Regions from separate parts of the Homo sapiens genome. Here region 2 is linked to region 1. The links come from fine-mapping of genetic effects on gene expression. Tissue or cell type: whole blood. Region 1 holds a variant in brackets; the other region holds the start of a gene. All regions are shown on one strand. Distances are between the middles of the regions.

Region 1 (2,911 bases):
GAGTCAGCTTAAGTAACTTGCCCAAGGTCACAGAGAAGCAAAATGTATAATGAAGTTTAAATAAATGTTACTATATACATGTTCCATCATATCATAAAAAGACATGTCCTAAGCAGTTTTCATTTTAAAGTAATTTAAGGTTTTAAAAAATATAGGATATTTGTGTTATCTGTATGTATAAATGTTTAAGAATATAAAGTATTAAATAGTTTTAGATGACTAAAAAAAGCCTTATAGAAAAATAAACAATTGCCTTGTTTGCATACGCTCCTCATCCACTTTATTTTTTTCATGTACCATATATTGAAAATCCCTAACAATCACAACCCCCTATCAGACTCCACAGGATATGATGGAGATCGTGAAATTTTATACTAACTAAAGGTTAACTGCAAAAGCTGTCATCATTTTTCTCAATTTTCAAGCAGGATACAGGTTTTTTTTTTCTTTTTTTCCTACCTTCTTAAAAACACCTTTGGAAAGGGAAAGGAAAGTTGAATGATGTATGTGCTCACTACAAAATAATCCAAAGCTATAGAAGAGCACAAAGAAGAAAATAAAAATTACTCTAAATCTTACTATTGAAAGATAAGAACCTAATGATATTTGTACAGACACTTTCAGGTACATGTATATGCATAGATGTATATTTAAATGTAAAGGTATATATAGGAAAATGTACATAAGCAAGTCATATACATTATTCTGTTACTGCCAGTTTTCAAGATGTCCTATAAAGCCTTCCATAAAAAAATTCTTTCAATAAAAAAATTATATATGCTCATAAGAAAAAAAAACTCAACAGTGCAGAAGAAAATACAATACAAAGCAAGTCTTCCTTAATTCCTGCCCCTCCACTTCCACTACAATTCTAACTAGCAGATGAATACCATTAACAGAATTCACTGACATTTATATTTGTGTTCTTATATATATTCTTTTAAAAACATTTAAATTATAGATACATGAAAACATTCTGGTTATTAAAAAGTCCATACAGATAAAGAAAATCTCCGCATCTGAACACCTCAAATATCATTTCTAAACTTCATTGTTATCAGTTTGGTAAATATCCTTGCACAGAGCTCATTCCACGCATTTTCTTTTTTTTTTTTTTTTTTTCTGAGACAGAGTCCCGCTCTCTCGCTCAGGCTGGAGTGCAGTGGCGCGATCTCGGCTCACTGCAAGCTCCACCTCCCGGATTCACGCCATTCTCCTGCCTCAGCCTCCTGAGTAGCTGGGACTACAGGCGCCCACGACTGCACCTGGCTAATTTTTTGTATTTTTAGTAGAGACGGGGTTTCACCGTGTTAGCCAGGATGGTCTCGATCTCCTGACCTCGTGATCCGCCGGCCTCGGCCTCCCAAAGTACTGGGATTACAGGCGTGAGCCACCG[C/T]GCCCGGCCCATTCCATGCATTTTCATATAAGTACCTGCATGTAGAGAAATACACTTTTGTTGTTTTTAGTCTTTTTAAATTTTAGTCTTGTTCAATAGTATCATACTATGATGTTGTTTTTTTCATTTAACAATGATAGATTTACTATTGCTGTTAAATGTTACAATAGTGCTACCTTCTTGCAGTAACAGAACAGTTTTGTATCTTGATTGTGGTGGTGGCTATACGAATCTATACATCTAATAACATGTCACAGAACTATACACAAAGACACACCAAAAAATGGGCACATGCAAAAACTAGTGAAATCCAAGTAGGATCTGTAGTCCAGTCAATTATATTGTACCAATGTCAATTTCCTGATTTGGCCAATGTACTACAATTACATAAGATGTTACCACTTGGGGGAAGTTGGGCTACGGGTAAATGGGATTTCTCTGTATTCATTTTGCAACTTTTTTTTTTTTTTTCTTGAGACAGGGTCTTGCTCTGTCACCCAGGCTGGAATGCAGTGGTGCAATCACAGCTCATTGCAACTTCAAACTCCTGGGCTCAAGCAATCCTCCCGCCTTAACTCCCAAGTAGCTGGGTATACAGGCATATACCCTAACACTGGGCTAATTTTTAAAATTTTTGGTAGAGATAGAGTCTCACTATGTAGCCGAGGCTGGTCTTGAACTCCTGTCCTCAAGTGATCCTCCCAACTCAGCCTTCCAAAGTGCTGGGATCACAGGTGTGAGCCAGAGTCCAGCCACTGGTATTCTCTTAAGAGGAAAAAAGAAACAAGAGATGCAGACAGAGGGAAGAAGGCAGTTTCCTAGACAGAGGCAGAGATTGGAATTATGTGGCCACAGCCAAGGAATGCCCAGGGCTACCAGAAACTGGAAGAAGCAATAAAGGATCCTCTCCTAGAGGCTTTACAGGGAGCACGGCCCTGCTGACAAATTGATTGCAGACTTGCAGCATACAGAACTGTAGGAAATAAGTTTCTGTTGTTTTAAGCCACCCAGTTTGTGGCATTTTGTTATGGTGGTCCTAGGAAAGTAACACAATGGGTTTTGCACACTATTATAGTTACACCTAGGTATTTTATTTTTTGGTTTTGAGTTTTTTCTCTGTTTCCTTTTTGCTGTTGTTCCTGTAACTTATGGGGTTCTCCATTATATTTTCCTAGCTGTATGCATATAAGTTACGTTTTTCTTTTTACTAATTTTATATTCCATTACACAACTTAATTCTTTTACTGCTTAAAGTAATTTTACTGTAAGTTCAGTTGACTCTTGGATTTTTCAGGTGTAAAATTAGTCATCTGGAAAAGGATTTTTTTTTTGAGACAGAGTCTCGTTCTGTTGCCCAGGCTGGAGTGCGATGGTGTGATCTTGGCTCACTGCAACCTTAGCCTCACAAGCTCAAGCGATTCTCCTGCCTCAGCCTCCCAAGTAGCTGGGATTACAGGTGTGCACCACCACCCCTGGCTAATTTGGTATTTTTAGTAGAGACGAGGTTGCACCATG
Region 2 (2,911 bases), 34 kb after region 1:
TAAAGTTTAGCTAAATAACAGGCTAAACAATGAAATGGAAAAGGAAGCTGCAATATAGATCAATTAAACTATTTTTATATCTACTTTTAAAGAGAGACAGGGACATGATTATGCCATATAGAAAATAGATGAATATATATTCACGAGCTGAAAAAAAAAACAGGTAAATTATTTATTAGGTGAAGATAAATTCAAGCCATGAAGAGAAAACACATGGCCCAGAAAAAAAAAAAAGTAGGTTGTGCAAGTCAAATGAAAAGACACAAAACTCAGATCTCGGGGAGACAGGGGAAGGAGAAGGCTGAGCTAAAAGAGAGCCTTACTGAAAGAAAGCAAATAAGTGAGAGGGAGTCTGTGCCCTCTGAGATGGAATGAGGAAAAGATAAAAGTATTCATGGGCTCAAAGGCAGCTTCAGCAGTGAATATGGAAAAGGAATGAGCCCGTTCACTGTCTCAACACTAAAAGGGAAATAATATAGGGTCTTTTTCTAAACCAGCATCCATGGCAGTCAATAATAAAAGTGCCTAACTAATGCAAGGCATTTAATACGTGGAGGATTTTCTTACGATTGCATTCCATACATTAGTCCATTCACTCCCCGAAACACACCGAATAGGTGGATGCATCTAATTTACAGATGAAGAAACCGAGATCACACAATGGGAGATAGCACAGGCTGGTAAGAGAGACTGGGGCGCTCATCCACTTCGTTGTACTGTCTCTCAGCGAGATCCTAGGAAAACCCTTACACTTCTTTGTGAAGACAGACCTTGGCTTTCCAGATTTTCTCAAAGGAGTCTGGGCCCAAAAAGCGATCCTCTACTTCAGAGAAAAGTTCCTTTATGGGGCATATGAGGTTCTTCCAAGCACACAAAGCTTAGAAACTCTTTAAAAACAAACAAAACACCTGGTGGACACAGAGGCCTGTGAGTCATGAAAGGAGAAGGGAAAAATCGGAAAACCAGATTTAGAAGCCATCCTTCTTTGAAGAGAACGAGAAAGTAGAAAGCAGCCCTTCCCCTCTTCCACGAGGCGTGACTCAGGGACGTTACCTCCCCCGATTTGCTCTATGCACTAAGAGGGTGACCCTCCTCTGCTTTCGACTCTGGCCCAGACACTCACGGGTTACCCGGCCAGGCCTGGAGAACCCAGGTCTAAACAGATGGGACTCGTGGGGGAACAAGGGGGCCCCTGTGCGCAGGGAGGGAAACCTACCCAGGAACGCGCCCGGCCGGGTCCAAAGGCCCTCCGCGCGCGGGCCCGCGCCCTCGCCCCAGACCTTACCGCCTTCGGCTGCAGAAGAACTGGCGGCCAAGCGAGGCTGTCGGGCCGAGCCAGGAGCGCGTCTTCGGGCGCCGCCGCTTCTGTGGCGCCCGCGCTTAGGCGGCGGCCGGGTCCCGGTGGACTCACACCCGGGGAGACGCGGCCTGCCCGGTCAAGGCCCAGGAGTTTGAGGCCCCAGAACGCCAACCGTGCGCGCGCCCTCGAGCCTGCCCAAAGATGAAGGGTCAGGGCGCGCCCCGCGGGCCGGGCAGCTGCGGCAGCGCCGCAGCCGAGATCGCTACCGATTTCGTCCGCCCTCTCCCTGCCCAGCTACAGCCCCGCTTCCCCCGCGCGAGCTTTGGCGGCGGAGCAGCACAGTGCGCGCCGATTGGCCCTCAGAATGTGCGACGCCTGGCGCCGCTCCCCACGGATTGGCCGGGCCGGCAGTGCGTGCACGGAGTAAACAAACCCCGCCCCCAGGCTTCCCTTTGAGAGTAGGGGGCCAACAGATGGAGGGGCGGGACTCGTGCACTCAGCCACCGCCCCTTGGTTCCCCCTGTGGCCTCCCTGGGAGCCCTCCGCAGGACCCGACCACCCCGCTTCCCCGCCGCCTCCAGGGACAGCTGCGGGCCTGAGGCCTAGAATTTTAGACACACTTCCTTCATCACTCCTATCTCATCCCCCCTACTCCCACCCTGCGACTTGGGTGGGAATCTCTTTTCCAACTGACCCCGAAGCCAGAAAACCCCAGCTCTCTTGGAAGGAGGGGGACTGGGGCAGTTCCATTCGGTCCCCAGGCCTTTGCGGGGTCGCCCTGGGGGAGCATCAATAAGGGACAGGGGGGCGAGTGATCGTGATTGAGGCTATGCGTGGGGCCAACTGTGGGACACCTTGAAATTATTCAGACAATGAGTTAGAGACCACTGGGAATGTGGAGGTTCTTCAATATCAAGGCAAGTTAATACCCAAACCAGGACAGGTCATTCTGTCCCGCGGAAACTGCACACACCCCAAATACCCGTACACTTGGTTCCATATGAAAAGATTTTGTTCATTCGTTCGTGCCGAAGTTAAAAACCCCGTGTGAACAGCGCATTAAAACGATTAGATCTTTCTCATTTTACTCCAGTCAAATCTTATAGATCTTCTATATGCCACTTTGTTTGTTTTTGAGACGGGGTCTTGCTCTCACCGAGGCTGGAGTGCGGTGGCAGGATCACGGCTCATTGGAGCCCTGACTTCCCAGTCTCAGGTGATCCTACCACCACAGCCTCCCGAGTAGCTGGGACTACAGGCCCGCGCCACCACACCCGGCTGTTTCGCCATGTTTCCCAGGCTGGTTTGGAACTCCTGGACTCAAGAGATCCTCCCGCCTGGGCCTCCCAAAGTGGTGGGATTACAGGCGTGAGCCACCACGCCCGGCCCCAAACACTATTCTTGATATGGGGAGACATCAGTGGACAAAATAGAGACAAAAACTCCTGCCTTCATGGAGCTTACATTCTAGCAGGATGGGAAAGATAATATGCAAAAGAATACGTAAAACAAAAACTATATTACATGCTGGTATGTGTGCTATGGGAAAAAAATATAAGCAGAGGTGTTGGAGGAATGGCTTCAGTCCTAAATAGAGTGATCTGGGAAGGT

Evidence for each region. PIP is the estimated chance that this variant, and not a neighbour inherited with it, causes the effect. A credible set is the group of variants that fine-mapping cannot tell apart.
Region 2: TFDP2 starts here. The variant in region 1 is the best candidate, but not a certain one, in a credible set for the expression of TFDP2 in whole blood (TOPMed, PIP 0.65).

What each region holds. Positions count from the first base shown.
Region 1 is chr3:142,114,213-142,117,123 of GRCh38, forward strand. All of the region lies in intron 1 of TFDP2 (transcription factor Dp-2), which reads right to left. Among named protein-coding and RNA genes, the nearest start is that of TFDP2, 34 kb to the right of the region's middle. The variant C/T (reference allele first, on the strand shown) is at 1,397.
Region 2 is chr3:142,147,898-142,150,808 of GRCh38, forward strand. It overlaps TFDP2 (transcription factor Dp-2), which reads right to left and starts at 1,647. Exons shown (of 13, transcript NM_001178139.2): 1 at 1,286-1,647. RefSeq lists silencers at 1,143-1,192, 1,423-1,492, 1,553-1,762, 1,873-1,922 and an enhancer at 1,292-1,792.